Linked DNA regions of Homo sapiens: all the other regions are linked to region 4. Evidence: fine-mapped QTL for protein levels in blood plasma. Region 4 holds a variant in brackets. A gene starts in each other region. All regions are shown on their reverse strands.

The links. PIP is the posterior inclusion probability: the model's chance that the variant is causal. Protein levels are from antibody-based Olink assays in UK Biobank. Linkage for the fine-mapping came from a reference panel and not from the study's own genotypes, which makes the PIPs less certain.
Region 1: MFGE8 starts here. The variant in region 4 is fine-mapped to the plasma level of the MFGE8 protein (UK Biobank, PIP above 0.99).
Region 2: it holds the start of TREM2, and the variant in region 4 is fine-mapped to the plasma level of the TREM2 protein (UK Biobank, PIP above 0.99).
Region 3: DKK4 starts here. The variant in region 4 is fine-mapped to the plasma level of the DKK4 protein (UK Biobank, PIP 0.98).
Region 5: MEGF10 starts here. The variant in region 4 is fine-mapped to the plasma level of the MEGF10 protein (UK Biobank, PIP 0.99).

Annotation. Positions count from the first base shown.
Region 1 is chr15:88,912,740-88,918,875 of GRCh38, reverse strand. It overlaps MFGE8 (milk fat globule EGF and factor V/VIII domain containing), which reads left to right and starts at 5,497. Exons shown (of 8, transcript NM_005928.4): 1 at 5,497-5,629. The coding sequence starts at 5,557. RefSeq lists cis regulatory regions at 533-653, 817-1,050 and an enhancer at 5,756-6,136.
Region 2 is chr6:41,161,480-41,167,640 of GRCh38, reverse strand. It overlaps TREM2 (triggering receptor expressed on myeloid cells 2), which reads left to right and starts at 4,525. Exons shown (of 5, transcript NM_018965.4): 1 at 4,525-4,598; 2 at 6,028-6,161. The coding sequence starts at 4,559.
Region 3 is chr8:42,373,819-42,380,152 of GRCh38, reverse strand. It overlaps DKK4 (dickkopf Wnt signaling pathway inhibitor 4), which reads left to right and starts at 2,924. Exons shown (of 4, transcript NM_014420.3): 1 at 2,924-3,218; 2 at 4,323-4,473; 3 at 5,240-5,392; 4 at 5,794-6,090. The coding sequence starts at 3,108. The coding sequence ends at 6,053.
Region 4 is chr11:60,170,562-60,176,895 of GRCh38, reverse strand. It overlaps MS4A6A (membrane spanning 4-domains A6A), which reads left to right. Exons shown (of 6, transcript NM_022349.4): 5 at 1,285-1,494; 6 at 3,767-4,399. The coding sequence ends at 3,895. Among named protein-coding and RNA genes, the nearest start is that of LINC02705, 9.3 kb to the right of the region's middle. The variant A/T (reference allele first, on the strand shown) is at 3,770.
Region 5 is chr5:127,288,324-127,294,657 of GRCh38, reverse strand. MEGF10 (multiple EGF like domains 10) reads right to left here and starts at 3,862. Exons shown (of 25, transcript NM_001256545.2): 1 at 3,602-3,862. It overlaps LOC105379199, which reads left to right and starts at 3,922. Exons shown (of 4, transcript XR_007058921.1): 1 at 3,922-4,080.

The sequences.
Region 1 (6,136 bases), not on the chromosome of region 4:
CGATTAGGAAGTTCCGTTCTGCAAGAGTAAGTGGCATTAACTGGTAAGGGTGCTATGCTCGCAGCATTCTCTACCTGCCATCTGAGATGGATTTCTGAAGTGTTGTATTTATTTTTTATTGAAATAAAATTCACATAACCAAAAATACACTCTTAAGATGTACAGTTCAGAGGCTGGGCACAGTGGCTTATGCCTGTAATCCCAGCACTTTGGGAGGCGGAGGCCAGCGGATCACGTGAGGTTGGGAGTTCGAGACCAGCCTGGTCAACATGAGGAAACCCCGTCTCTACTAAAAATACAAAAATTAGCTGGGTGTGGAGGCACACGTCTGTAACCCCAGCTACTTGGGAGGCTGAGGCACAAGAATTGCTTGAACCTGGGAGGCAGAGGTTGCAGTGAGCCAAGATTGAGCCACTGCACTCCAGCCTGGGTGACAGAGCGAGACTCCATCTCAAAAAAAAAAAAGTACAGTTCAGTGGTTTCTAGTATGCTCACAAGGTCATACAACCATTATCACTAAGTTCAAAACATCTTCATCATCCCCCAAAAGGAACTCTGTATCTACGAACAGTATTCCTCATTCTCCCCTCACCCCAGCCCCTGGCAACTGCTTATCTAACATTGGTCTCTATAGATTTGCCTTTTCTGGACATTTCATAGAAAAGGAGTAATACACAACATGGTCTTTGTGACTGGCTTCTTTCACTTAGCATAATTTTTTGTTTGTTTGTTTTTTGAGATGGTGTTTTACCTTCCCAAAGTGCTGGGATTACAGGCGTGAGCCATCGCACCTGGCTTTACCAGTGTTTTTATTTGTTTACTATGTATGTATCATTAATTTAACCCCAGAGGGTGACTGGTGAGCCTTCTTGGCTCAACCCTGAAGACCATGAGGGAGCCTGTGGTTTGGGGATGGGTCATATGTCCCTGAGCAGGGCAGCTTCCTTCTCTGGGAGAAGGCTTGGTCACAGGGAGGCGACTGAAAGTAACACTGCTGATGGATCTCTTTCTACATAAAAGGTGCTGGGCTAGGGTGACAAGAATACATATGACATTATTCCATATACCAGGACTTACAATCGAGTGACAGGTATTGCGACCATCATTCCAATATGAGGCAAAGTTTGATAAGAACTATAGGAGAGACTGCAAATTTAAGAGAGACAGGTTGGGAACAGTAAATTCTAATTAGAAGACTTGATTATTATAGCTTTGTAGTAAGTTTTGGAATTGAGAAATGTTAGTCTTTCAATGTTGTTCTTTTTTTTTCCTCAAGATTGTTTTGGCTATTCTGGGTCCCTTGCATTTCCGTGTGATTTTTTTTTTTTTTTTTTTGAGACAGAGTCTCGCTCTGTCACCCAGGCTGGAGTGCAGTGGTGTGATCTCGGTTCATTGAAAGCTCTGCCTCCCAGGTTCACACCATTCTCCTGCCTCAGCCTCCCGAGTAGCTGGGACTACAGGCGGCCACCACCACACCCGGCTAATTTTTTGTATTTTTAGTAGAGACGGGGTTTCACTGTGTTAGCCAGGATGGACTCGATCTCCTGACCTTGTGATCCTCCCGCATTGGCCTCCCAAAGTGCTGGGATTACAAGCATGAGCCACTGCGCCAGGCCTCCGTATGAATTTTAGTATCAACTTGTCAATTTCCGCAAAAAGGGCAGATGGAATTTTGACAGAGATTGTATTGAGTCTGTACATCAATTTGGGGGTGTACTGGCATCTTAACAATACAAGTCTTCCAACCTATCAACAGGGGATAATTTTCCATTTGTTTAGATCTTCTTTAATTTTTTTGATGATGTTTTGTAGTGTTCAACGTACTTGTATTTCTTTTTCTTTTTTTTTTTTGAGACGAAGTCTCTCTCTGTCACCCAGGCTGGAGTGCAGTGGCACGATCTCAGCTCACTGCAACCTCTGCCTCTCAGGTTCAAGCGATTCTCCTGCCTTAGCCTCCCGAGTAGCTGGGATTACAGGTGCCAGCCACCACACCTGGCTACTTTTTGTATTTTTAGTAGGGACAGGGTTTCGCCATGTTGGTCAGGCTGGTCTTGAACTCCTGACCTCAGGTGATCCACCCACCTTGGCCTCCCAAAGTGCTGGGATAACAGGCATGAACCACCGTGCCCCGCCATGTCTTGTATTTCTTTTGTTAAATTTATTCCTAAGTATTTTATTCTTTTTAATCCTATTGTAAATGGGATTTTTAAAAATTATGTTTTTGGATTGTTTATTTCTAGTGTAAGAAATACAACTGATTTTTGTATATTAATTGTGTATCCTGCAACCTTGCTTAGCTCATTTATTATCTTTAATAGTTGTGTGTTTGTGTGTGTGTGTGTGTGTGTATGTGGATTCTTTAGGGTTGTTTTTTTTTTTTTTTTTTTGAGATGGAGTTTCGCTTTTGTTGCCCAGGCTGGAGTGCAATGGCGCGATCTTGGCTCACCGCAACCTCCGCCTCCCAGGTTCAAGCAATTCTCCTGCCTCAGCCTCCCGAGTAGCTGAGATTACAGGCATGCACCACCACGCTCAGCTAATTTTGTATTTTTAGTAGAGACGGGGTTTCTCCATGTTGAGGCTGGTCTTGAACTCCTGATCTCAGGTGATCTGCTCACCTCAGCCTCCCAAAGTGCTGGGATTACAGGCATGAGCCACTGCGCCTGGCTCTTTAGGGTTTTTGATATACAAGATCATGCCATCTGTAAGTAGAGATAGAGATAGTTTTACTGCCTCCTTTCCAATGGGGATGTATTTTCTGTTTCTTGCGTAATTGTCCTGGCTGGAACCTCCAGCACAGTGATGAAATAGAAGTGATGAGAGCAGAACACCATGTCCTATTCCTGAGCTTAGGGGAAACATTCAGTTTTTCACCATTAAGTATGATAGTAGCTATGGGTTTTTCATATATATACATATATATATATATATGTATATATATATACACATATATATACATATATATATGTATATATATATACACATATATATACATATATATATACACATATATATACACATATATATACACATATATATATACATATATATATACACATATATATATATATACATATATATATATATATACACACTTTTTTTTTTTTTTTTGAGACAGAGTCTTACTGTGTCACCCGGGCTAGAGAGCAGGGGTGCAATCTCGGCTCACTGCAACTGCCGCCTCCCAGATTCAAGCGATTCTTGTGCCTCAGCCTCTTGAGTAGCTGGGATTGCAGGTGTGCACCACCATGCCTGGTTACTTTTTGTATTTTTAGTAGGGACCAGGTTACACCATGTTGGTCAGGCTGGTCTCGAACTGCTGACCTCAGCTGATCTGCCCGCCTAAGCCTCCCAGAGTGTTGGGATTGCAGGCGTGAGCCACTGTACCCATCGGTTTTTCATAGATTTTTAAAAATCAGGTTGAGGAAGCTCCCTTTCACTTCTAGTTTGTTGAGTGTTTTATCACGAAGACGTGTTGGATATTATCAAATGCTTTTTCTGTGATTATTGAGTTGATCCTATATGTCTTTTCCCCATATATATATATATGTTTTTTTTTTTTTTAAGACGGAGTCTTGCTCTGTTGTCCAGGCTGGAGTGCAGTAGCGCGATCTCGGCTCACTGCGAGCTCCGCCTCCCGGGCTCACGCCATTCTCCTGCCTCAGCCTCCTGAGCAGCTGGGACTACAGGCACCCACCATCACGCTCGGCTAATTTTTTTTTTGTATTTTTAGTAGAGACGAGGTTTCACTGTGTTAGCCAGGATGGTCTCGATCTCCTGACCTCGTGATCCGCCTGCCTCGGCCTCCTAAAATGTTGGGATTACAGGCATGAGCCACCACGCCCAGTACCCGCTTCTGAATATTTTAAGAAGGGCATCTTGCCAGTGGACTCTAGTCCCAACTTAGGTCTCAACACAGCTAGGAGGGGAGATGTGTGACTGTTCTATTTTGTTTGTTGGCTAGTCTGACTTAAATACTTATTAGTATTAGTATTGTTATTATTTTTTGAGACAGTCTCGCTCTGTTGCCCAGGCTGGAGTGCAGTGGTGCAATCGTGGCTCACTGCAGCCTCGACCTCTTGGGATCAAGCGATCTTCCCACCTCAGCCTCCTGAGTAGCTGGGACTACAGGCATGCGCCTGGAATATTTTTGTATTTCTTTTTTTGTAGAAACAGGGTTTTGCCATGTTGCCCAGGAAGGTCTCGAACTCTTGAGCTTAAGTGATATGCCTACCTCGGCCTCCCCAAGAGCTGGCATTACAGGCTTGAGTCACCACTCCCAGCCTGAAGCATTATTATTATTATTATTATTATTATTATTATTATTATTATTAGAGACAGAGTCTCACTGTGTCACCCAGGCTGGAGTGCAGTGGCATGATCTCGGCTCACTGGGACCTCTGCCGCCTGGGTTCAAGCGATTCTCCTGCCTCAGCCTCCCGAGTAGCTGGGATTACAGGCACCTGCCACTGCGCCCGGCTAATTTTTGTATTTTTAGTAGAGACGGGGTTTCACCATCTTGGCCAGGCTGGTCTTGAACTCCGACCTCAGGTGTTCCACGTGCCTCGGCCTCCCAAAGTGCTGGGATTACAGGTGTGAGCCACCGCACCCAGCCAAAACACTATTATTAAAATCACTTATTTGTAAACAGGTAATATTTGCACATGATAAGTACAAATCATTTAGTAAAAAGTCAACGGTGACAGGCTTGCTTTGTTTTATTCCCTTTCGGCAAACAGGTGCCCATTTCCTCGCATTTTGTCTATGGTGCCTTTCTTGCAACAAAGGCAGAGATGAATAGCTGCTACAGAGACTCAGGGCCTACATATCAGAGAACATTTTCTATTAGGCCCTTTACAGAAACCTTCGCTGATTTTTTTTTTTTAGTATTTTACCATTTCAGACAATGTTGCTATGCTATCTTTGTATATCTGTCATTTTGCACATGGGAGTTTCTGTAGAATGAATCTCTCTATGTGGAAATGCTAGGTCTTAAGGTGTCAGCATTTGTCGTTTTGATAGGTGTTACCAAATAGCCCTCTAGGGAAGTTGAACTAATTTATACTGTCTTCAGCGAAGCATGCTTGGACCTGTTCCCCACAGCCTCCACTAACCTTGTTAACATCTTGATACTTGCCGATCCGAGAAGGGAAACACGATGCTCATTGTAGTTTTAATTTGCATCTATCTGATTATGAATAAAGAGTTAGCATCTTTTCAAGTCTAAAAATCTTAAAAACAAAACTCCTGAACTTTTCCCGCCCAACAGACTCAAGACTCGTGACCCGGCCGTTGGCACGACGCGGGACGCCGGTGTGGCAGTGGCGGAAGAGGCAGATATCGCGGACCACCCCCGCGCCCCCCAATTCCTTTCAACCAATTCCCTCCCAGCCGCGGAGCCCCGCCCCCAGTCCGCCTCTGGCCAGCTTGGGCGGAGCGCACGGCCAGTGGGAGGTGCTGAGCCGCCTGATTTATTCCGGTCCCAGAGGAGAAGGCGCCAGAACCCCGCGGGGTCTGAGCAGCCCAGCGTGCCCATTCCAGCGCCCGCGTCCCCGCAGCATGCCGCGCCCCCGCCTGCTGGCCGCGCTGTGCGGCGCGCTGCTCTGCGCCCCCAGCCTCCTCGTCGCCCTGGGTGAGTGGATCGCGCCGCCCTCTGCCCCTCGCCCCTCCTCCCCGCGCCGCTCGGAAGTTTGCCCGGCGCCCGCCCTCCACCTCCACTGTTGACAAACTTAGACAAAGCCCCGGGGACCGGGCTGGGCAGAGGGGCGGCTTCTTCCGCTGCGCCCTGGCGGGACAGGGGGATGCGGCCCTGCTGTCTCTGCGCTGGGGCTTTTGGGCTGGGACTCGGGACATCGGGTGACAGCCCTGCCGCCCCCAGGGATGCGGCTTACAGATAATGACAAAGGAATCCGCTGTGTCGGGCCTCTCTTTTCCCTGGTGAAAAATGAGGCCAGGGAACTGCGTTTGACTTTCGAACCCCTTCCACCTGGGAGATTCTAGGACTCTAGTATGGATAAGTCTTGTCTGGATAACTTTGTCCTGGCCATCTCCCTGCCAACTCCAGTTGGCTGGACAGTTCATTGGATTTTTGCGCTCCCAATTGTCCGTGCCTGGTCACATAAGGGAAGGGCCGGGGAGT
Region 2 (6,161 bases), not on the chromosome of region 4:
TAAAGTAAAAGCAGAACAGAATCAAAGAAGGAACTGGGAAAGAGAAGTCTTAAGTGGCTGCTTATTAGTGAATGGCATTTGTGGGCTCTTATGTTTGTAGTTTGGTGGCCCCAGCCAAGGGTGGAATGGACACCACCAATCACCCCTTTAAGCCCAGTTCTCAGGCAAGGCTTTGCAGGGGCTGTCCCAGGTTGGGCTGACAATAAGCCTAATCAAATTGGAGTTATTCCAGCTTTGAGAGGCCTGTTCCTATGTCGGCTGTTCCAGTCACATGCCTCCCCAGCCTAGCACAGGGGCTGGCACTGGCCATGGTCCTGACCAACACCTAGTGCTTTCCTGGCTGCTCAAGCTGGCTGGGTGCAGATGGGAAGATAATGGAGGATCTGATCTGAAAGGTGGTGAGGATGCTCATACTTGACCGTCTTGATTTACTCCTAGGGAGAAAGGAGAAGAGAGAGTGAAAGTGTGTGTTTGAGGAGAGTGATGATTTGGAACAGCTACTCTAGCCTCCAGGAGTTCTGAAGAGGATGACCAGGCAGCTGTGAGGTCTCAGTTAAAGTTAGACATCAGGAGCATGTCATGTGTGCAGTCATGCTTCTGGTTCTGAGGCTTTCCCCAGCAATGGTCACCATCATATCTAGGAACACAAAGGCTCCATGGTTCTGTAACACCATGCCTGGCACATGAATGAATGCATACATCGGTGAGTGAGGAAGTTCAGACGTAATGACAGAAGGACATAAACTCTGTGCCCAGATGTGAGGTGGAAGGTATCTTTGAATTCAGATTTAGCAAAGGGAAAAGAAGAATCCTGTGCTTGGGAGTGCGGGTGGTGCAGAACTGTTCCTGTGCTCAAATATAGGATCGAGGGATCAGGAAAATTAACACAAGTTTAAAGAAGAGCCTTTGATGTACATGTGCTGTGAGTAATTGGTAAGGATTTCTTGGTGCCTTCGCTTTTCCATGAGGTTTAAAGACCTTTTCCTCATGTGGGAAGGAGTGGGGACATGGGGTCAATATGCAGCTTAAATGGACCAGAAGATAAGATAAAAACTTATGGAGCTTATGAGTTATGCTTCTGCCTAGGAAACAGAAAGCTAGAATCATGTAAAATAGCACCCCAAATCATAAAATATTTAGGTAGAAATTTAACAATATATGTGCACGATTTGTATGCTGAAAACTGAAAACACTGATGAGAGAAATCATAGAAGAAACAAATAAATGGACAGCTGAACTGTGTCCATGGCTTGGAACACTCAACAGTGTTGTCTATTTCCCTCTAAAACTAAACCATAGAGTCAATGCAATCCCAACTGAAAGCCCAACAGATTTTTGGGGGTGAGAAGAAGAGGATTAGAAATCCACAAGCTGATTTTAAATTTTACATGGCAAAGCAAAGTAACTAGAAGAGTCAAAACCATTTTGAAGAACCACTGTTTGATTTTAAGACAGTGTAAAGCTACAGTAAGTTATCAAGACAGTGTGATATTGGAGAAAGAATAGACATATAGATCAACGGAACAGAACAGTCAGAACTAGACCTACATGTCAATTGATTTTCAACAAATACACTAAGGTAATTCAATGAAGAAAAGAAAGTCTTCTCAACAAATTATGCTAGTACAATTGGACATTCATATGTTGAAAAAATTGCAAAGTGCATCTTATACCACATGCAAAAATTAATGAAAAATGAATCATAGACCACAATGTAGAACCTAAAACTATAAAACTTCCAATGGAAAACATAGGAGAAAATATTTGTGACTCTGAGATGGGCAAACTTTTTAACAGAGCACAGAAAAGCACAAATTGTAAAAAGAAAAATCAAGGAATTGGACTTCATCAGAAATAACATCTATCCATTTAGGCTGGGTGCAGTGACTCATGCCTGTAATCCCAGCACTTTGGGAGTCTGAGCCAGGCAGATCACCTGAGGTCACGAGTTCGAGACCAGCCTGGCCAACGTGGTGAAACCCCGTCTCTACTAAAAATACAAAAAAATTAGCCAGGCGTGGTGGCAGGTGCCTGTAATCCCAGCTACTCAGGAGGCTGAGGCAGGAGAATCGCTTGAACCTGGGAGGCGGAGGTTGCAGTGAGCTGAGATCTCACCATTGCACTCCAGCCTGTGTGACAAGAGCAAAACTCTGTCTCAAAAAAAAAAAAAAAAAAAAAAAAAAAAGATGCTGCTAATGCTGCTAAGGAAATGAGAAAAAAAGTTACAGACTAGAAGAAAATATTTGCAAATCACATATCTGATAAAGGACTGCTATCCAGAATAAAAAGAATTTTCACAGCTCAATAATAATGATAATAATAAACAATTAAAAATGGACAGGACAAAAGTTTTGAACTAATACTTTGCTGAAGAAGGTACAGATGGCAATAAACAACAAAAAGATGTCCAATATCGTTACTCACTAGAAAAATACAAGTTAAAATTGAAGGAGATATCACCTTAAACCTATTAGAAAGGCTTTTTAAAACCTGACAATATTAACTGTTGACAAGGATGTAAAAATGGTACAGCCTCTTTGGAAAAGACTTTGGCAGCTTTTATAGACTTAAACATACACTTACATGTGACCCAGCAGTCCCATTCTTAGGATTTTATCCAAGGGTAATAGAAACATATGTCCACACAAAACATATGTACATGAATGTTTATAGTGGCTTCATTTATAATTGTCCCAAACTGGAAACAACCCAAATATCCATCAGCGGGTGAATGAATACGCTACTTGTGGTTCAACCATAGAATGAAAGATGGTTTAGCAATAAAAAGGAATACATTCTTGAGAAGTGAAACTTCACGCATGCTGAATTTATTCTGATGAGTGAATAAAGACTGACCCAAGAGGCTACATACTATTTAATTCCATGTCTATGACATTTTAGGAAGGGCAGGAAGCTACAGAAACAGATGTCAGCTTAGTAGTTGCCAGGCCCTGGATTGGAGAGAAAGAGACTGGCTAAAATGGGCACAAAGGCTCTCGCTTAAGCTAAATGAAACTTTCTATATTATGGTATTGTGTTACACAGACATGGTGATTGTGGTGGTTGTTATAGAGATGCATGAGTTTGTCAACATTTACACAACTAGACATTTAAAAGGGGTAAATTTTTGTATATGTAAATTATGGGCCAATAAACCTGACTTCTAGAAAAAGACCCTAGAAGAGTACCTACAGAGTGATCTTCAGGCAGCCTCAGACTTCAGCCCCCAGGCCCTTGGGGCAAGGCCGGGCAGTTGGCCCTTTGAGTGGAGGCCTGTCTTCTCCTCACTATGAATTCCCCATCTCCAAGCACATTCCCTGTCCGTAAGTTAGATGCACAGTAAATATGAGTAAATAAATGAATAAAAGAACAAATAAGTGAGTGTTTGCAGGAAACTAAAGTAGACCCTGATAATCTACAGGCTCCTGCAGGCTTCTCCAGCCTCTTCTGCCACTCCCAGCACAACTCCATTTCCCACTCCTAGAATTGACTCAAGCCTCCTCCATCCAATCCCCGACTCACTGGGCCATTTCACACTTTTGTGCCTTTGCACACGTGGGTCCCTGTGCTTGGATCACCATGGGAACCTGTACGTGTAGAAAAACACACCCCTACCCCCAGAACTCTGAGAAATATCCTGTCCTGTCCTGTAGGATAGGATGATCAGGAGTTCAAGCATGTGTGTGCACAAAATAAACACCAGTGTGAGCATGTGTGCACAGGAGACACCCAACAGTTCCAAGAAGGCTAAACTTGGGCAGAAAATTCCAGGTGGGAGAGAAAATTTTCTGTCTTATGGACAGCCCATTTCCCTTTTCCCTTCTAACTAGGATAATGGTAATAGTTAGTATTTGTTGAATGCTGTGTGTCAGGCCCTACTGGAAAGCACTTTACCTGTAGGAACCCATATGGTGCTCCTGATAACCCTTTGCACTATCATTATTCCCACTGTATAGATCAGGGAACAGACACAGGTAGGTTTTGGATGTGTGGTTACACACCCAGAAAGTCAGGAAGTCTGGCTCCAGAGCTGTGTACTTAACTGCTGCCACACTACAGGAATGACAGCCCTGGGGGGATGAACTAAGAGGTGCTGGATGAGGGTCCTGGCCTCTAAAGGCACAGCTGTTCTCCAACTCTTGCAAGGCTGAAACCAGAAGATGGCGGGCATTGCAGCTGGTGGAGGGTCTGAATACAGCTGTGAGGATAGTGATCCCTGGGCTAGGCTCTGCAAGGAAACTGAGCAGTGCAGGGCCTTACCAGCCCCAACCATCTGGGGGCCACCCTGGCTGGCACCAGCAGGAGGGTGGGCTGGCTTCTCAGAGGTCTGGGAGACTCAGCCTCCTTCTGCCAGGGCTGCAGTGGCCGACTCCTCCTCCCCTCTGTCCCCACCCTGCACCGCCTCCAGACCCCAGTCCTGACTATTGCTTAATCCCCAGGAGCCCAGTTCCTGTGGGCAGCGCCTGACATGCCTGATCCTCTCTTTTCTGCAGTTCAAGGGAAAGACGAGATCTTGCACAAGGCACTCTGCTTCTGCCCTTGGCTGGGGAAGGGTGGCATGGAGCCTCTCCGGCTGCTCATCTTACTCTTTGTCACAGGTAGGATCCCCTCCGTGCCCTGTGATGCCTTCTCTCCCTCACTTTGAGCATGTGGTTGGGGCGCGGGTGGTGGGCCCTGGGGTGAATTATGAAGGCGGTGGCAGTCCTCGCATGCCTGAGTGCCCTGTTCTGCACTCCTCTCCTCCCCACCCTGCCCATATTCTTCACACCCTCCTTCCCTCCCCAGTATCAAAACCTACCCTCAGACTCTTTCTGCATGTGGACATGTAAGGGGCTGGTGGACTCTGGTTGCATTGGAAGGGAAGGAGTGCTAACAGTGGCATCCCAGGCACTAGCTGGCAGTTGGGGGAAGCTTTGGGGGGCACTGGCACTGGTAATAGCCTCTGAAATTATAAGCCACTAATTATGAGCCCCTACAGTTATAAAGGAGGAAAGAACCTGAGGATGTTCATCTGCATCTTTGGGGCACTCTCTCCCCTGCTCTGAAGGTCCCCTTGTCCTCAGCTCTTGATGGGAGGTGAGGAGCGTAGAGATTTCCGTTGCTGAGTTGAGGGGAATTGACACACCAAATTTTTGTACACAATTGCTTCTTCCCGCTGAGGAAAGCGCACCTTTTGCTCCCCCAGAGCACTGGACAAACCTGGGCAAGAGGAGAGACGGTGCCAAATGGAGTCTTGTTCCTGCAGCTTCTTAGATGGTGGTCAGGGGGAAGGCGGGGTTCTGAGGCATGGATGGGAGGTGGTCAGATGGGAGAGGGCCACGGCCCATCTGGTCTCTCTAGTTCCAAAAGGCAAGCCACCAACTTCCCAATCCTATCTTTCAAGCCTCTGTCACAGTAATGGTTGAAGATGGCAGGCAAGGGAGGACCAAGAGAGAAGTCAAAGCAGGGGGCTCTGGGGGCTGCCCCAGCAACAGGCTGGTGCTCTAAGCCCATCTCCCCCGCCCTAAGGAGGGTTCCCAAAATAGCAGCCTCATGTCTCCCCCAAAATATCTCCGAGACGGGTCCTTCCTGAAAGGGGAACAAAGCCACAGAAATAGGGAAGCTGGAAGTTAAAGGTCAGGAAAGTCGGTACCAATGTGGGCGGCTGCAGAGCAAGCAAGAGTGGCGGGGCAGGGAGAGCCAGCCCCAGGCCGAGAGGAGAGGTCCCAGTCCCAAATGATGGCAAAGAGATGTGCAGAACAGAACTGGAGGGGGTTTTAAGACCAAGTGCCTCCAGAATAGACCCAGAGAAGGTCAGTTACTTCTCCAAGGAGGCCCAGCAAGAGCAACAGTGAGAAAACCAAACCCAGGTCCCAGGTTTCCTGGTTCCCAATTTCCCACAAACACATGCTGTGCCATCCGCTCCCAACTTGTATAAGAACCTAAGCTCCTTCAGGGCAGGATTTTTGTCTGTTTAGGTCACTGCACAGAGCAAGTGTTCAAAGCGTATTTGGTAAACAAAGGAGTGAATGAATGTCTCCTCCCCAGAGCTGTCCGGAGCCCACAACACCACAGTGTTCCAGGGCGTGGCGGGCCAGTCCCTGCAGGTGTCTTGCCCCTATGACTCCATGAAGCACTGGGGGAGGCGCAAGGCCTGGTGCCGCCAGCTGGGAGAGAAGGGC
Region 3 (6,334 bases), not on the chromosome of region 4:
TTATGTTGCCCAGGCTGCTCTTGAACTCCTGGCTTCAAGTGATCCTCCCATCTCACCTTCCCAAGTAACAGAGACTACAGGCAAGTGCTGGCATGCCCAGGTTTTTTATTTTTTGTGGAGACAGGGTCTTGCTATGTTGTTCAGGCTGCTCCCTGGCCTCAAGTGGTCCTCTTGCTTTATCCTCCTCACGAAGTGCTGGGTACAAGCATGAGCCACTGCACCCAGCGGATCATGGCATTCTCAGTCTGATATATCTCCAATGACTTTACATTGTGCAGAGAATAGAATCTGATTTTCTTAGCATGGCATATCAGGGTCTGCATCTTGCTTCATCTCATCCTTCCATCATCTGCCGCAGCCACACAATCTCTCACTAGCACCTGAGTGCACCTCCTCCCTCTTGCACACACCTCACCCTCTGAGCCCAGGTGAGGATATCTCCGACTTCCCAACTTAGGAAGCCCCTATGCAACCAACAAAATTCAGCTCAAATATTACCTCATCTGTAAACACATTCCTTTATTTCTCTAGAAAGTCTAAATCATGCCTTCGTCTGTATTTATATCTTCATAAGTCCTCCACCCTTATATTTATACCTTTATTTTAGTGCTTGTCATAATACATTGAAATCATCCATATGTACATGTCTTCTATCTGGATCTCTCTCTCTCTCTGTGTCACCCAGGCTCTGTCATCCATACATACAAGTTTTCTGTCTGAATCTTTCTCTCTCTCTCTCTCTCTCTCTCTCTCTCTCTCTCTCTCTCTCTCTCTATATATATATATATATATATATATATAGGCTTAATCTCCTGGGCTTAAATGATTCTCCCACCTCAGCTTCCTGAGTTGCTGAAACTACAGGTGAACACCACTATGACTGGCTAATTTTTTTTTTTTTTGAGATGGAGTCTCACTCTGTTGCCGAGGCTGGAGTGCAGTGGCACCGTGTTGGCTCACTGCAACCTCGGTCTCCTAGGTTCAAACAATTCTCCTGCCTCAGCCTCCCGAGTAGCTGGGATTACAGGTGACCACCACCACGCCCGACTAGTTTTTATATTTTTAGTAGAGACAGGGTTTCACCATATTGGCCAGGCTGGTCTCGAACTCCTGACCTCAGGTGATCCATCCACCTCAGCCTCCCAAAGTGGTGAGATTACAGGCGTCAGCCACCGCACGCGGCCTACTTTTTTTTTTTTTTTTTTTTTTGTGGAGACAGGATCTCAATATGTTGCCCAGGCTCGTCTTGAACTCCTGAGCTCAGGAGATCTTCCCACCTTGGCCTCCCAAAGTGCTGGGATTACAGGTGTGAGCCACTGTGCCCGGCCATTGGAGTTTCAAATTTTATTCCTAACATGTAATCCGAGGCTCTGTTCCATGCCAAGTGCTCTAAGTGCTCAGTGGCTGTTTGTGCCGTGTTACAGGAGTTCCCGTCAGTTCTTTCGCCTGTGTATATTGCCAGGGGCCTTTGGTAACCTGAAATTCCCTTACAGTGAGGCAGCAGGAAGCAGAGAAACCCGGCAGAGACAGAACCCTGGGGGCTCTTTCCTTTATCCTTGGTCATAATTGTACAACTTGAAAATAAATTCTGTAACACCCCTAGTCACCAGGGTTATCATGCTATCAAAGGGTGTTGTTTGATGTCAGTTTAAGGGATTAAAACAAGTAACTTCCATACGAGAGGTAGACAAGCAATACCAACCCAAGGACAAGGGCCAAGTAGTAGGAAGGCTCGAATCACCTGCATCACCCTCGGAATGGCACTGCATTACTCAAAATTGAGAATGTTCCCATGCACAGAATGCTGAGATTCATGTCAATGAATTGATGTTAGGTTGTTCTGCAGGAAAATGTAGTAAATAATAAGATTATCATTTATGGCATAGAAAAAATGCATTTTAGATGACTCTATGCTAAGAGCAATGAAACAATGAAGAGAAAAAATGATTTTTTGATCCAGATCTAGATTGTTCTACCCTTAAAGTATTTAAGACAGTGATAAGCACATGTCTAAATTACCTGACTAATAGTCCAAATGGAAAAAAATCAGACAGGAAAGGGATGAAGCAGAAGTTTTAAAAAATTCGTATTAGGAAAATTGGAAATACATGAAATTTCATCTGAAATCAGCCAGAGACTTGGATCCTTGTTCTGCTTAAGTGAGTTTTACATAATGCAACACAAATTAAATATGTTGCTGATAAAATGGACCCAAAGCTTCGTACTGAATTGTGTAAAATGCGCTATCATTGTTCCCACCATTGAAAAATGGGATTTTCATAAATTACATTATTTTCCTAATAACCCTAACTTCAAACAGTTCAATTTTCATTTAAAGGAAAGTAATTTCCCAAATGGCATTTAGTCAGAACAGGTGCTGTTACGTTCACAACTTTTAAGCGGTTGGGATTTTGACATCTGGATGCCAGAGCTAATCAGGGGGCGTTTTCTCTTTTTCTATCTGTCCTCACTATCTGAAGCCCAGTTTACAGCTTCTCAGTGTATTTTGTACCTCATTAGTTTTTGGCATCCTCTATAGCATATTGGCCAGTATGATTCATCCTTTCTTTGAGCACAATTAGCTGTGAAAACAGATCTTAGGGCAGACTCCCTCCCTACCCCCAAAGGATTACTGAAGGTAGGAAATGCAGGTGATTATCAGAGTTTGCCTTTGATACAGACATCCTGCTCTGCCGTGGCCCTTTGAACTAACTTTGATATGCAATAATTAAGAGGGATTGAACCCCTGGAGGAGAAGCCGCATGGCCCTGCCTCTTCTCTCCTTCTATTGAGTCCTTGTTTTGAACTATTGATCAAACAGATTTGAAGGGATTTGTTGAAGCCTGTGTGGGGCAGGAGGAAGGAACGGAGCGGGGAGGAGGCACATCTGGTTATAAATAGTTTCAGGAGGAACCTGCTGGTCAGACTTTGCTCAGCCGATTTCACGCACCTTACTCAGACTAAGGTTTACTTCTTTCAGAAAAAGCAGTGACAAACAGACGACGTGCTGAGCTGCCAGCTTAGTGGAAGCTCTGCTCTGGGTGGAGAGCAGCCTCGCTTTGGTGACGCACAGTGCTGGGACCCTCCAGGAGCCCCGGGATTGAAGGATGGTGGCGGCCGTCCTGCTGGGGCTGAGCTGGCTCTGCTCTCCCCTGGGAGCTCTGGTCCTGGACTTCAACAACATCAGGAGCTCTGCTGACCTGCATGGGGCCCGGAAGGTAAGGCTGCTAGGGAGGGGGGCGAGGTACGGGACTGCTGACAGCTGGGGTGTTTTGTTTAGGCTTTAGTAAGTCATTCTGATTCATGTATGAAATGTCTTACCTAGCAGGTAAATTGAATTGGTTTCGGATTTGGGAGGGCATCCTGGTAGGATCAGTGGCCTTAGTGTGAATGTATGAAATAAACACAGTGGCTTTTCACATCATTCGGCCATACGTTTGTCTATAAATCACGAAATAAACGAACACTTTGGAAGCTCTACTATGTGCCAGCTCTTTTACATGTAATACGTCATGTACTCTTCCTCACAATTTGAGATAGGTGAAACATTCCCTAATTCCAGATGAGGAAATAAGACTCAGAGATGTTGAAGAGCTTACCCAAGCTCACACAGCCAGCAAGCAAACATGGGAATGAGAATTTAAACAGAGGGCCATGATGCATTGCCTTGTCACCATCTAACTTCACAGAGAGAGTTGTTTTAGGAATCGCTTTATGTATGTGTATATGTTATTATATATCGTATAGATTATTACATATATCATATATGCTACACCTACGTTGTATGTCTATGTAGAAGCATCAACTGTGTATGAGAACAATTGATCTTCGGTATCTCTTTCTCTATGTCAATGAGGCATCATTGAAAATCAAAGGACAGTTCACTTAGGGAAGGGTCTCTAAGCTAAATGTGATTCACTAGAGTAAAAAATCAAATAGGAATGCCACAAACATCAATAGTATGTTTAATGAAACTGTAGCCAGCTTCTAGAGTTAAGATATATTGAAAATCTCATACTCACCTGTTAAGACACACATAGGAAAACATTTTTTCCCATTTTCACAAAGAGCACAGGAAAACTAAATTCTGAGTTAAGTCAATTTTTCAAACTCAAATAGCCTTTGCAGCGCCTAGGTCTCCCCGGGTGACATGAGCTTCCCTTTGTGGGAGAAAACCATTTCCACTGGAGAGTAAGATGCTGCCCAGGGTTTGTCACAGCGCCACTGTCCTTTGGCTCCCTCCGCCTCCTGCCTTCAATAATAAGTCATCTTCCATCGTGTTGGGGGTTTCCTAGCCTTGTGATAACAGATTCCCTCCACAGGGCTCACAGTGCCTGTCTGACACGGACTGCAATACCAGAAAGTTCTGCCTCCAGCCCCGCGATGAGAAGCCGTTCTGTGCTACATGTCGTGGGTTGCGGAGGAGGTGCCAGCGAGATGCCATGTGCTGCCCTGGGACACTCTGTGTGAACGGTGAGCGACATAACGCCAACAGTGGTTTTTAAACCGAAGGTAGTGTCTAAGCCCCATAGACTAGAATATTCCAGGGTAGGCACTCTCTAATGGTGCTTCCTAGATTCATGCTTGAAGTAAATGTATGCAGCTGCCTTTTCTTTTCCTTTTTTTTTTTTTTCTGAGGCGGAGTTTCGCCCTTGTTGTCCACAGCTCACTGCAGCCTCGGCCTCCGGGTTCAGGTGGTTCTCCTGCCTCAGCCTCTGGAGTAACTAGGACTACAGGCATGTACCACCATGCCCGGCTAATTTTTGTTATTTTTAGTAGAGATAGGGTTTCACCATGTTGGTCAGGCTAGTCTCGAACTTCTGACCTCAGGTGATCCACCTACCTCGGCCTCCCAAAGTGCTGGGATTACAAGCGTAAGCCACCGGACCCGGCTTGCCTTTTCTTAATGAAACAAAATAATTTATTTCCTGGCAACAGCTCTTGCCAATGACTTGGAGATAATGATTTTAAAGGAAAGACTCAAGTTGTAATCATTCAAATACTTCCATTTCCACTTGGATACCATTAACTACCTTTAATGGAATGCAATTTCCACTTAGCTACTTTCTCTGCCACATGCGAGCATGTAAATATTTAGCACATGTTCCAGAAATCTAGAAAGTTATATATAAACTGAAGGCAGAGGTGCTGCCAAACTATGCAACAGTAGGATAATTAGTGTGTCTGTGGTTCTCCCCCTTGAAGTTAATAATTCTAGTTACACCTGGTTGTCCCTCAGATGTTTGTACTACGATGGAAGATGCAACCCCAATATTAGAAAGGCAGCTTGATGAGCAAGATGGCACACATGCAGAAGGAACAACTGGGCACCCAGTCCAGGAAAACCAACCCAAAAGGAAGCCAAGTATTAAGAAATCACAAGGCAGGAAGGGTAAGAACAGCATTCGCAGCATATTTTATTTCAGAAATGCATTTTCTCCTCCCAGCCTCTTAAGGATAGGGTGAGACTGATTTTATTCTTCTCCATCCCAGAAACACTTAGGAAGCATGTGCTGTTTGTTATCTCTTTCTGTAAGAAGCTGTGGGGGTCACGTAGAGAGTAGCCTAAGGTAGTCTGCAGCCAGTAACAACGATCAATTCTGATGGGTAGGGGTGGAGTCGCCATGGCATTACTGCTTTTAGCGTAACACCTAGCTCTGTGAGACCTGCGTGCTGTGTCTGTTTTTACTTTGTGGCTGTCAGTCATAGGTCCCATTCCCTTATCCCAGTAGCAAACCCCCAGCAGGCCACTTTCCTTATTTATCACTAAAGCCCACATTAACCTTGTTACAGGACAAGAGGGAGAAAGTTGTCTGAGAACTTTTGACTGTGGCCCTGGACTTTGCTGTGCTCGTCATTTTTGGACGAAAATTTGTAAGCCAGTCCTTTTGGAGGGACAGGTCTGCTCCAGAAGAGGGCATAAAGACACTGCTCAAGCTCCAGAAATCTTCCAGCGTTGCGACTGTGGCCCTGGACTACTGTGTCGAAGCCAATTGACCAGCAATCGGCAGCATGCTCGATTAAGAGTATGCCAAAAAATAGAAAAGCTATAAATATTTCAAAATAAAGAAGAATCCACATTGCATTTGAGCTCAATCTTGGACATTAACTTTAAAATGCTTCCATACAGATCTCTCTTAAAATCAAATCTTGTAGCAAGTGAAATAGCCTGAAACTAGAGAACTAAGAGATGGCGACCTTGTGATGAATGAAACTAGCTTTAGCCTTTTGTCCGTTTTTCCAGAAAACTGATGGGACTCTGTAACCAAAAAAATTATTTCTAATCTAGGGACTCAATTAATTCAAATCTTTAAGAATTGAAGCCAGGCATGGT
Region 4 (6,334 bases):
ACATGCAGGAAGCTCAAGGATGCAGGATGTGGTCTCGGGGTGGGCTCAGACTTACCAGAGACATCGAGGCTTTAGCGAGTTCTACTCTTGTCACACATTGCACCAGCCCTTTTTGAGATTGAAGAAGAGTGCCATCTCAAGACAAATCTAGCTTATTCTAAGAAATATAGACTCTAGGCATCAAGAATACTACTGGCTACTAGGAGGCCCAGGAGTGTACACTTCAGTCATTATGTTGGGAAATTGGGGTCCCAGAGTATCAACTGGTGAGTTCCTAAAAGAAGAAGTGCCCATGTGGGATTAAGTAACATTCTACTGTATGGCTGTGAGGTGTGCCCTGGAGCCTACCTACCTGTAACTATAGCTCTCAGAGTACTCTTAGCTCAATTCTCTTTTCTGTGTGAGTTGGAGTACAAAAGAAGTCACTTCTGAGGTTAGTTTATCTATTCCCTTCACTTCATAAATGTATAAATGAGAACCAGAGTGGGAAATAAAATCAAGGAACTGATTACCCAAGGGAATAAACCAAGGCAAGTCTAGTACTGTGACTTCAATATTCTGACCTCCAGTTCAGACCTTTTTCTTGTACTTCCCGCTGCCTCCCACACATTACACCATCCTTGGGCCTGCACCTAGACCTCTGCCCACAGCCACCCCATACTGCACTCAGTGTGGCCAATCATATGCCTGCCCATGTTCCAGGGCCTGCCTGAGACTCAGAACCACCCCCTCACTCATCTTTGAGAGGTGTGCTTTTGAGAGAAGCAATGGGCAGGCGAGAGTGAGCTATTAGGTTGGTGCAAACATAATTGTGGTTTTATGGCAAAAACCACAATTACTTTTGCACCATGCTAATACATGATCTATCTTTTCCATGTGGCTGATGCTTCCGCCAGGGGTTTTTGAGTTGAGCGAGAGAGAAACTGCATCTGGTACGTTGCCACCTTCACTTTGGGTCACGCTCTCTTGGTAATGTTGCAGGTAAAGCCTCATGAAAGCCCTGCTATCTGTCCTGGGGAAAGAATTTAGGAGAGTAACATTCTCTACCACACCACTGAGGTCCTGCTTAAGGTGAACCAGTTCGTATAGTCATTCATTCAGCCAAGAATTACCCTGGAGATTGAGAGATTTTTGCTGGACACTGGAGAGGCATACAGCAATAAATGATCAATCCCAGACCTCCTGAGGGGACAGATAAGGGAATAACTTACAATTTAATGGCAAAGATGCATAACAGATTCATGAGTCATTAGCAATGATCCTTACCCAACATTTCTCTTTCAGGTGCATAGCAGCCTGGTTGGAAGCATTCTGAGTGCTCTGTCTGCCCTGGTGGGTTTCATTATCCTGTCTGTCAAACAGGCCACCTTAAATCCTGCCTCACTGCAGTGTGAGTTGGACAAAAATAATATACCAACAAGAAGTTATGTTTCTTACTTTTATCATGATTCACTTTATACCACGGACTGCTATACAGCCAAAGCCAGTCTGGCTGTAAGTATTTTTAGATGGGATGTTCTAATCTTATGAGGTATTCAAAAGCCTTGATTTCTTGTTATTCCTTCTTTTGAAAATCTCTCTATTGGTTCTGGTTTGGGCATCTGGGGGAAAGCCAGGTTTATGTAAATCAAAGGGGACTACAGGGATGAGATTAAGGGGATTACATACTAATAGAGTGGAATTGAAAATGTTAAATAAGGTTGATGATGAAAAACTAAAACTTACTGTTTGTAGAGGTTCTTAATTATCAAACTAATCCAATTTTGGAGGCATAAATTATGAGTTTATCAAAATGAGAATCTTGGTACATGGAGTGGTGAATTAAGAATGGAAACAGAGCAGAAAGACCCAGGAGATCAGAATAGGCCAACAAGGAAACAGTATGTGTGCATGGTAAGGAGTTAATTTGGTTTGAGAAGACATCAGATTCAGTACTAAGAAAAAGAGGATAGGAAATATGGGATGAGAAGATAAGGGCTTCTTCTTCTAATGATCACAATAATGAATAATACTGATCAGGTGAGAATGCAACATTATTGTTGCTTTTTGTTATAGCTGAAAGAAGTGTGATATATTAAATCAGGAGATAAGAAATATAGGGAGATGGAGAGTGTAATTGAGAATGATTGCAGGAGAATTCTATCTCTTTGGAAGAAGAAAAATAATGAAGTTTGGCTAATAGAAATAATATGTCTGAAGTTGAAAGATTAAGGGGCATGTGCATGGTCAGCAACACATTGAGAGAAAAACAGGCAACATAAGAGTAAAGGGACGGCTGGGTCAGTGGCTCACCCCTATAATACAAGCATTTTGGGAGGCCCTGGTGCATGGATCACGAGGTCAGGTGTTCAAGATGAGCCTGGCCATGACGGTGAAACCCCATCTCTACTAAAAGTACAAAAACTAGCTGGGTGTGGTGGCGGGCAGCCGTAATCCCAGCTACTTGGGAGGCTGAGGCGGAGAATTACCTGAGCCTGGGAGGTGGCGGAGGTTGCAGTGAGCTGAGATCACGCCACTGCACTCCAGCCTGGGTGACAGAGCAAGACTCCGTCTCAAAAAAAAAAAAAAAGGAATAAAGAAATTGCAGAATATTTGTTGTCCTGCAATCATAAAAACAAGATAAGCCAAGAACTCAGCTGGAAGATGGACAGATAGAAAGGTCTGGTCAAAGTCATGTTTGTATAGCACTCATTATAAAGAGGGCCTTGCTCCCAAGGTAATGGTATAATGAGAAAAAGTACAAGTAAATGAGGCTGACAGCAATTGGCACAGATTAATACCTGGCACAGCCAATTCCACCTTGGGAAAAATTCTGAAGAGAAATTTCAGAGAAATTTGGTAGTGATAAAGTATAAATTCATGATGGGACGATTTTACATTGGAAATAAGAGAGATTCTGTCAAGTTTGCTTGCTGGAACAATTTCCAGTAATGGAAAAAGTTATATCTTCTCTTTAACTGTGTATAAATACCACAAACCAAAGTTTCATGTGATCAAATTATTTCCGTTTATTATCAGATGGCCAGTTCTGCACAAAGAATGTCTCAGGACAGAAATGATAGAATTCATTCTTGTGAGTTGGTGTTGGTGATTAGCAACTCTGACAGTTTACTACCTTCACTGTTTTTTTCTAAGCCTTACAGTTACACCCCCAAAAAAAAGAAAAAAAAGAAAAAACAACAAAGAAACAACAACAAAAATCAAGAAGAAATACAAAGGGGTTCAGATACATAGACAGGGATGTCAATACTAAATTTTACAAAGGACTTGCACAGTCAAAACCTCCTTGATCCTTACAAATTTCTGAGAAAGAAATGTTAGTATGCATGTTTGATACATGAGGAAACAGGAGCTAGAGAAAGAGAGAGACTTGTCCAGGCTTACACAGCTACTAAGCAGTAAAGGTGAGACTGGAACGGAGCTGCTGATTCTCAGTCCTGGGAGTTATTACGCCACTCTGCTTTCTTACCGAGTGAACAATGTCATCAGAACTATGGATGTCTCAAAGAAGTAAGAAATAAGTGTATGAAGTAGATTAGTTGATTTAATTACTATTCATCTCCCTTTCTCCTCTCAAGGAAATGAGTTAAGGGGTTGAATTAAGACAATTGTGAGGTGTGGGAGGAGCAGTTTTATCTTCCTGATGGTGTCCTTTCTTCATTCTCTAATGGTTGAGGTGGTCTTCATCTCTATGGTCACCTCTCAACTAGGCATGAAGGCTTCAGCTGACCTAAGCAACATCAATCTTTTATTTCTTGACTTTCAGGGA[A/T]CTCTCTCTCTGATGCTGATTTGCACTCTGCTGGAATTCTGCCTAGCTGTGCTCACTGCTGTGCTGCGGTGGAAACAGGCTTACTCTGACTTCCCTGGGGTGAGTGTGCTGGCCGGCTTCACTTAACCTTGCCTAGTGTATCTTATCCCTGCACTGTGTTGAGTATGTCACCAAGAGTGGTAGAAGGAACAATCAGTCAGTCATGAGATACACATGGGAGGGCATTTGCATTGTGATGGAAGACAGAGAAGAAAAGCAGATGGCAATTGAGTAGCTGATAAGCTGAAAATTCACTGGATATGAAAATAGTTAATCATGAGAAATCAACTGATTCAATCTTCCTATTTTGTCAGCGAAGGGAATGAGACTCTGGGAAGTTAAATGACTGGCCTGGCATTATGCTATGAGTTTGTGCCTTTGCTGAGGACACTAGAACCTGGCTTGCCTCCCTTATAAGCAGAAACAATTTCTGCCACAACCACTAGTCTCTTTAATAGTATTGACTTGGTAAAGGGCATTTACACACGTAACTGGATCCAGTGAATGTCTTATGCTCTGCATTTGCCCCTGGTGATCTTAAAATTCGTTTGCCTTTTTAAAGCTATATTAAAAATGTATTGTTGAATCAAACCCCTATGGACTTATGGCTTTATTTAACTGAATTAAAAAGCCTTGATTTATCCAAAATTGTATTATAGAGTGTAGAATGAATACTAGGGTGATAAATTGCAATTATTTGAAGAACCTGGTGATATGCTCTACTTATCTTGGATTAGCTAAGAATTCTATGTATACAGTTGGAAAAATGGCATATATACATCTATCTTGAACCTGATTGAAGTCTGAAGACCTAACATATTTTGTTTCTTCTAGAGTGTACTTTTCCTGCCTCACAGTTACATTGGTAATTCTGGCATGTCCTCAAAAATGACTCATGACTGTGGATATGAAGAACTATTGACTTCTTAAGAAAAAAGGGAGAAATATTAATCAGAAAGTTGATTCTTATGATAATATGGAAAAGTTAACCATTATAGAAAAGCAAAGCTTGAGTTTCCTAAATGTAAGCTTTTAAAGTAATGAACATTAAAAAAAACCATTATTTCACTGTCATTTAAGATATGTGTTCATTGGGGATCTCTTGATTTGCCTGACATTGACTTCAGCAAAAGCACGGGGCTGTAAATTACCATTTACTAGATTAGCCAAATAGTCTGAATTTCCAGAAAACAAGGCAGAATGATCATTCCCAGAAACATTTCCCAGAAAATGTTTCCCAGAAAACTAGACAGAATGATCATTCAATGGATCACAGTGAAGCAAAGGACACAACTTTTTATTGTACCCCTTAATTGTCAACAGGAGTTAACTGATTTGTTGTGGTGCTCAGACTTTTTTATACAGGTGCTAGTGTTTTATCCTATGTATTTTAACTCATTAGTGCATAAAGGCAAGCCCCATATAATGAAGTCTCAGGGTATATGAAAGTAGCTGGCTTCAAAATAAAATTTTTGAGTGCATATTTTGTTTTAACACTCGTTTTGTTGTTTTTTCCCTTAAACACAGAATAAGTCAACAATGACAGACATAAACCCAAATTGGAACTCCATTTTCTCCCCATCAAATATTCAAACAAAACTAATGAGCAAACAAAAGCTAACCAGGAATACTCATTTTTTATGAAGCATCGACCAGTTCATACTTATTTTCTTATTGCAAGAAAGACCAATTGTTTGTGTATAAATATTAAGTTTCAGCATGTGTGTACACACACACACGTAGAAAAGTATTTCAATTTTACATGAGCTCCATTTCATTGAAAGAACTGGTCATGTTTCCCTTGCTTTTACCCACTGTAGCAGGGGTCATACCCACTGTATCAGATATCCTGATACTCAGCTTTTCTGCTGTTTTCTTTTCCAGGCTGAAACTGGACTGTCAGATTCTTTGATTTTAGCTTTATCTTCAAACTCTCGTTCATTATGTCTTCTCCCTGTCCATTGCACCCCCCACTGACACACACCATTTCTTTTATTTATTTACCTACTGTGGACATTCAACTTTTATTGACGCTTATTGGATACCAGACACTATGTCAAATAAGAGAAACAGAGATGACAGTGAAATTAGGGATATATACAGGGCACTAACTATTATTTGAACACAGAATAAAGCATACCTTCTTCTGCCTAAAAGAATGTAGGGGATAAACAGGTGTGTGTGTGTGTGTGTTTGTGTGTGTGTATGTGTATGTGTGAGAGAGAGTCCTTCTTTTGAAAATCCACATCCCCCATATCAATCACATGGTGCCACCTTCTGCCACAGGAGAGGACTATGACTCAGAGTCCACAATTGGTGTATTCATCTACTGTACTCACACTCCAGCTTTGTTCCTCACCCCCTGCCACCATGTCTTCACCACCACCACAGCACTCTGGATACCAGAAGTCTTACTGATTACCCAGTCAAACTTCTGGTCTTCAAAGTTCCCCCCGGGTCTCTCTTCAGCTTTGACTTGTTTATCAGAGAAGGCATCCAGCCCTTTAGGCAACACTCAAAGCCACT
Region 5 (6,334 bases), not on the chromosome of region 4:
ACGGCTAATTCTGGTATTTTTAGTAGAGACAGGATTTCGCCATTTTGGCCAGGCTGGTCTAGGATCCCTGGCCTCAAGTGATCTTCCCACCTCAGCCTCACAAAGTGCTGGGATTACAGGCGTGAGGCACCATGCCCAGCCCCACTTGAAGTTATTAACTTCCTAGGCTATGTCTAGCCAAACTGGAAATTCCCAACTGGCTTTTCCACACCCTCCATATGTATACAATACTGTCCCAACCACTTTGTCTGCTAAGAAAATGTTGACTATCATTCATCCATTTACTTTTCTCCAACATTCTCTAGGCATTTATTCCATAACTACTATGGGCCAGCCACTTGTATAAGAGCTTACAATAAGGAATGATGAACTCACCAATCTGTTAGGGATAAACATTCAGATAATAAATATGGCTGATACAATGTGATTATGCTATATTAAATCTATCCACAAGAATGGGAACTCGCATGAGATATCGCTAAGTTTATGAGATAATTGGGAAAAACTTCAGAGGGAAAGTCTTCAAAGGGATTTGAATAGTGTCTTAAAAGATGAATGGGTGGTAAGTGGTTGGTTAGACAGGAAAGAGGGTCAAAGACATTTTCAGAGGAAGGAACAGCATATACAGCTGGGTCATGGAAGAGTGAAAGTGCACAGCGTATTCTTGAGATAGTAACAAGATCAAGATCAGTGGGAGCTGGAGAGCTGGGGACCAGAGAAGCAGAAAATAACCCTGAGAAGTGCTGCAAAGGTGGTCTTGTGTATAGCGGTAAGGAGGTGAGACTTTATGCTGTAAGCCAGTGTTTCTCCAAATGTGATCTGACGTCAGCTTTACCAGGTTCACCTGGAGATCTCAAAATGCAGATTACTGGCCCTTACTTCTGGGGTGAAGCCCTGGAATCTATATTTTCAACATGCACCCAGGTAACACTGACATTCACCATCCAGAGAGCTGCCAAAGATTTTTAAACAAGGGAATAACATGATCAGATTTGCATTTTAGAAATACACTATTAAACCAAGCAGACAATCACAAAGAAGGTAAATTCACTGCTGCTAAATGAGCATGTGACTTGAGTTTTGCATTAGAATCACCTGGGGAACTTGTAAAAATGCAGACTTCTCACAACTCACAGAAGACTTACTACTTCTAAATCAAGGCAGAAGGGATTAGGGTTTGTATAGTTTGAACCATACAAAATTGCCATTTATTTAGGTCAAAAATGGTCAAATATCAGCAATTTCTCATAGTTCACTCTAATATTTTAACAAATCTCCCCACTTCATGCTTCTGGTATAAACCAAAGTCTGAGAATAGTGAAAGACAGACAGAGATAAACGCTTTTCCCTTTTCATTAATTATCGATGTTGTTACTCACTTTGATGAATATGCAAAGATGGAAGTAACGTAATTTATGTACCTAAAACAAATGTTAAAAGAGAAAAGTGGGGGTTCAAAAACAGCCACCAATGAAGTAAGGCAGCTAATTTAAGGATTTTGGAGCCAGAAGGAACACTGGAGGTTATTCTACTCTTTCCCCACCTCTCAACACAAGTTTATACATAATAAAACTGATGCCTAAATGGAGAAAAGCAATCTGCTTGAGGTCATAGGGAATATTTTGTTCAATTTCTCAATGATACGTGCTTTTTATGTGCTCTTATGAGCATTTTAACAGGTATGGAAATTGTGTAGCTAAAAATACTTGGGATTTAATTTATAGAGTGCTAGGTCACACACTTGAAATGGGAGGAGGCACATAAAGCCAATACTCATGCATAGCCATTTTTAAAATATAAAACCTAAAACAGTGCTTGACATGTAATAGATGGTTAATAAATACTTACTGAACAAATGAGTGACCTCTAAAAAATAGGTTAAAGAAAGTATATTAATGTAAAGGATTTCCAAGGAGGTATACAGGCTGTGAACTGAGTGTAGATTTCCCACCTCCTCACCTGTTCCAAGTAGTCTTTGGTGCCCATCCATGACCCACCACCCTATAAATTCCAGCTCTGCCATATACACCTTTATTTTTCCAACTGAAAGTGCCACAACAAAAAAGCAATACAAAGATCATGTCTGAGCTAAGTTTGACAATAGGTGGTAGTGAAGCTTACAGATGAGCACAGTCTTCAAAGTCCATCCAAATAGGAATAATAGCTAACACTTACTGACAGCTAATAGAAGCTATACTAGAGGGATACAACAATAGTTAATGCTAGCTATACAATAATAATAAAGCTAATTTGTGCCTACTATGTGTCAGGCTTGTTAGTCCTTCACATGCATTAACTTACTTAATCCCTTTAACAATTGTCTGATGTAAGTGCTATTATTATCATTTTGATTTTACATATGTGGATAAACAGATTAAGTAACTTACCCCAAAATCACAGAACTGAAAAGTGGCAGAGTTGTGAGCTGAACCCAGGCTGGCGGGTGCCCAGAGTTTACCAACTGAACTCTTTGAACTCTCAGTGGTAAAATTAAAAGTTCCCTGCAAGCTGACCTCTTGGAGCACTCGTGTCAGGAAGATGACATTTCTGGATAATATAAATTGGCCCCAGTATTTCTGTCCATAAGGAATGAAGCATTTTTATTTGGGAACCCTATACACAAAGTGAGACCCAGGATATAAAGGAGTAAGGCAAGAAGAACAAGAAGAAATGTCATTCTCTTCTGCCTTGGCACAGCATGGTTATCACAGCCTAAGAACAATAATAATGGCTAATTTTGGCTAATAAGATCTCCAACTTTGACTTTCTCCTAAATAATGTGGGTCCTTGCGTGAGGATATTTTCTAAAGAAGCAGCAAAGATATTGCCATCATTCATTTGCTCAGTGGTGTCACTAAGAAAAATACTTCCAGAAAGAAAATTAAGGCCAAAACACTTCCTTAAACCAGGCGTAAAAGTCCTCTAACAAGGAATTTAAAAGAAAAAGATCAACACCGGATTTATCTTTCTTAAGTAACTATCACTTGAAAAACCGTCCCTCCCAGCACTCCTTAAGGAGCCAAGCATACTGACAAGGCCCCTTTGGTCTAAGACTGCGACCTCACACCCCTACTGATCGCTGAGAACTCAGGAAAGGGGAGCATCCCGCCAGCCTAGAGCGTTATCTGCACAATCTGAATACCAAGGACGGGAGAAAGAGAAGTTTAGAAAACAGTGAAGATCCCAGAAAGGAAGTTCAACTGACCTAGAAGAAAGGGCCCAGCTGAAACTGCCTTTCAAGCTCAGTCCGATTCCCCACAAATCTCCCTACATCCAGCTATATCGCCCGGCAAAATGAAACAAACACAAGGTAAGGCAATACAAGGGCAGGAATTATGCAAAATAAAATGCGTAATGAGGATGTCTCTCCATCAAAAATACTCCAGGATTTTCCTACACAATCCCATGTAACAAAACCAAATGCAAACAACAATAAACCCTTAAGAAGCGCATGAACAACGCAGACTGAGCCCATCTCGCCCCACCTCACGCCGCACCCCGGTACCCTGGCTAAGGAAAATGTGACCCCCGCCCATGAGAAGCCTTCCGGCGTCCGGCCAAGGTCCAGGAGCCGCCGGAGTTGAGTTTGCCCAACTCTTACCCAGGTCCAGAGATCTTGAGAATCGCAGCGCAACCTTTTCTCCCCGGTCTTCACCCAAAGCCAGCCAAGACACAAAATCTGTTCCAATCAACGCGGTTAGCGTCCAAGCAGCGTCCCAGAAGAAAGCAATCTTTGGGAGTCTTCTTTCAGGCGTAAAGGTGGAGAAGCGGGAAAGAGGAACGTCTCAACGCGTTCCCAGTCGCCCAGTTTTGCGCACCGGGAAAGTACTTGCTGCAAACTTGAACAAGGTTTTCTCTGTCTGGCCCGAGATGCTGGAGGGGGTGGGGGCGGGTAACCCGAGCCGGGGCCGGGATTCGAGCAGTTGCCGCTGCTGCAGCTGCTGCTGCCGGGGCAGTGGCCGCTGGGGGGTTGTCGCTTGGCGCCGCGCGCAGTCCCTAGCGCAACATGCAGGATCTTCCCGGCCTGACTGCTGCACCTCGATCGTGAGTCGCCCCTGCCTGAGCGGCTTCCACCGCCTGGTGGGTGACCCCGCCAAAGGCCTGGTCGCGAAGTTAGCAAATGTTGGGGTCACCGCAGGGGGTGACCGAAGGGGTGTCAGAGTGGGTGCCCGCCTGATTCCCAACCCACGTTGGGTGCAAGTCCCTCGGCAGAGTCCCTGGGAGGTGTTCTAGACCCTCTGTAAGGATTTGTGGGACGGTGGCCGGCGCCCGAGCGGCCAACTGGAGTGGACGGCGGGTCCTCAGTGGTGTCAGGGGAGAAAGCGCAAAGGTGGGACCCAGAAAGGATGGTGATTAAGCCGTGCCAGAGAATGTGATGTGGCAGCAAAGTACATGGAAAGGTGGGGCGGGGAGGTGAAGGCAGAGGGTGGAGGGTGGGATAGTCTGCTTTACCATGGAGGGGCGGAGAGAGAACTCCCCGGACGCGCAGGAAAATCCCCCCAGGTCCTCGGAGGCCTCGCGCGGCAATTTATTGGGGAATGGCTCCCTCTGCCGACTCGCCGAGGAGGCCCCGGGAGGCCCAGTGATGGAATGTTAAAACCATGAACGGGCTTTTCCATTTGTGGGTTAGACAGGACATGAATTCTGGAATCTGCTTCTCTGACTGTCCATCTTCCTCTTCCAGACTAAAGAGTTTTCCAGCTTTTACAGGACCCCAAAAGATACAAATTTGACTGCTGCAAAGTTCTTTCTTGTGTCGTTGAATTCTATCCCCCTCTCCCCACAAAAAAACAAAAACAGGTTTAAGCCCCATAACCACTCCAGGTAACCATCTCCTACCAGGCTTCTCTTCCTCCCATTAATAAGAACTCTTTCTTTTTAGAGAGACTTCAAGAGCGTTCGAGTCCCTACTCAATAACGCTCCTGGAAAATAGTACAGACTCCATATTATGTTTGAGTGAATAAATGAATGGAATGAATGAACATAGATATGTTTGAAGCCCCTCACCATCCTCTTTACTCTCCCTGGAAATACACAGGGGAAGACTGTTTTGGTGTTTGTTTATTTGTTTGTTTAGCAGTCATCATTGCCCCTTCTCTGGTAACAGTACCTCCATTTTTCTTTGAGATACCATCCCTGCCACAAGGACAGCAGTCTGGGTGGAAGGTCAGTCAGGATGGTCCAGCTTTTCCCTGTCCAGAAGAGAGCAACTGACCTCAGCTAAGCCCCTCAGGCCCTCTCTGCCAGGAGTTGGAACTTTGATCTGGGCAGCACAGGCACAAATAATTCTAGAGGTGATTAATCCATATGGCTGTTTTCTAAGGAAATTGGCTGTTAGTTCATGCCACTTATTACCCAAAGATATTTTGCTTTATGAAACTTGGTTGCCCCACTTTCCTTTTAATTTTTTAATCAACTTTATTGGGGGATAAGTTACATTCCATATATTACACTCATATTAATTATACAGCTTCATGAGTTTTGAATAATGTACACACCCATGTAACCACTGCTTCAATCAAGATAATGAACAATTCCATCACCTCAGAGGGTTGTCTTGCACCCCTTTAAAGTCAACTTCTATCCCACCTCATATTTGGCCCGCTTAGCTGTTTTCTGTAACTACAGATTAGATTTGTCTTTTCTAACATTTCATATGAATGGAATCACTTACATATTCCTTTGTGTCTGACTTCCTTCACTCCACACAATGTTTTTGAAACTCATTAATGTTGTGCCTGTATCTGAAGTTTGTTCCTTTTTATTGCTGAGTAGTATTCCATTGTATGGATATACCACAATTTGTTTGCCAGTTTACCAAATGATGGACATTGGGGATGTTTTCAATATGGGGTTATTATGAATAAAGCTGCTAGGAACAATCTTTAACAAGTCCTTTTGTGGACATACATTATTATTTTTCTTATCTTACAGGAGTAAAATTATTATTACAGTAACTGTGTGTTTAACTATATAGAAAGATGAACTGCTTTCCAAAGTGGAAAACATTTTACATTCTCACCAGCAAGATATGATAATTGCTTCACATCCTCATCAACACTGGGTAGTTTCTGTCTTCTTATTTTTGCCATTCTAGTAAGTATATAGTGGTATCACATCGTGGTTTTAATTTGCGTTTCCTTACTGACTAATGATGGTGACCATAAAAGATGTTTACCAGCTTTTCATGTGCTCTCATGCCACCTGTTCTTTGATAAAGTGTCTGAATTTATTGCCCAATTTTTAATCAAGTCTTTGGATTCTTATTATTGAGTTGTAGGAGTTCTTTATATACCAGGCATTTGTTAGATATGTATATAACCAATATACACT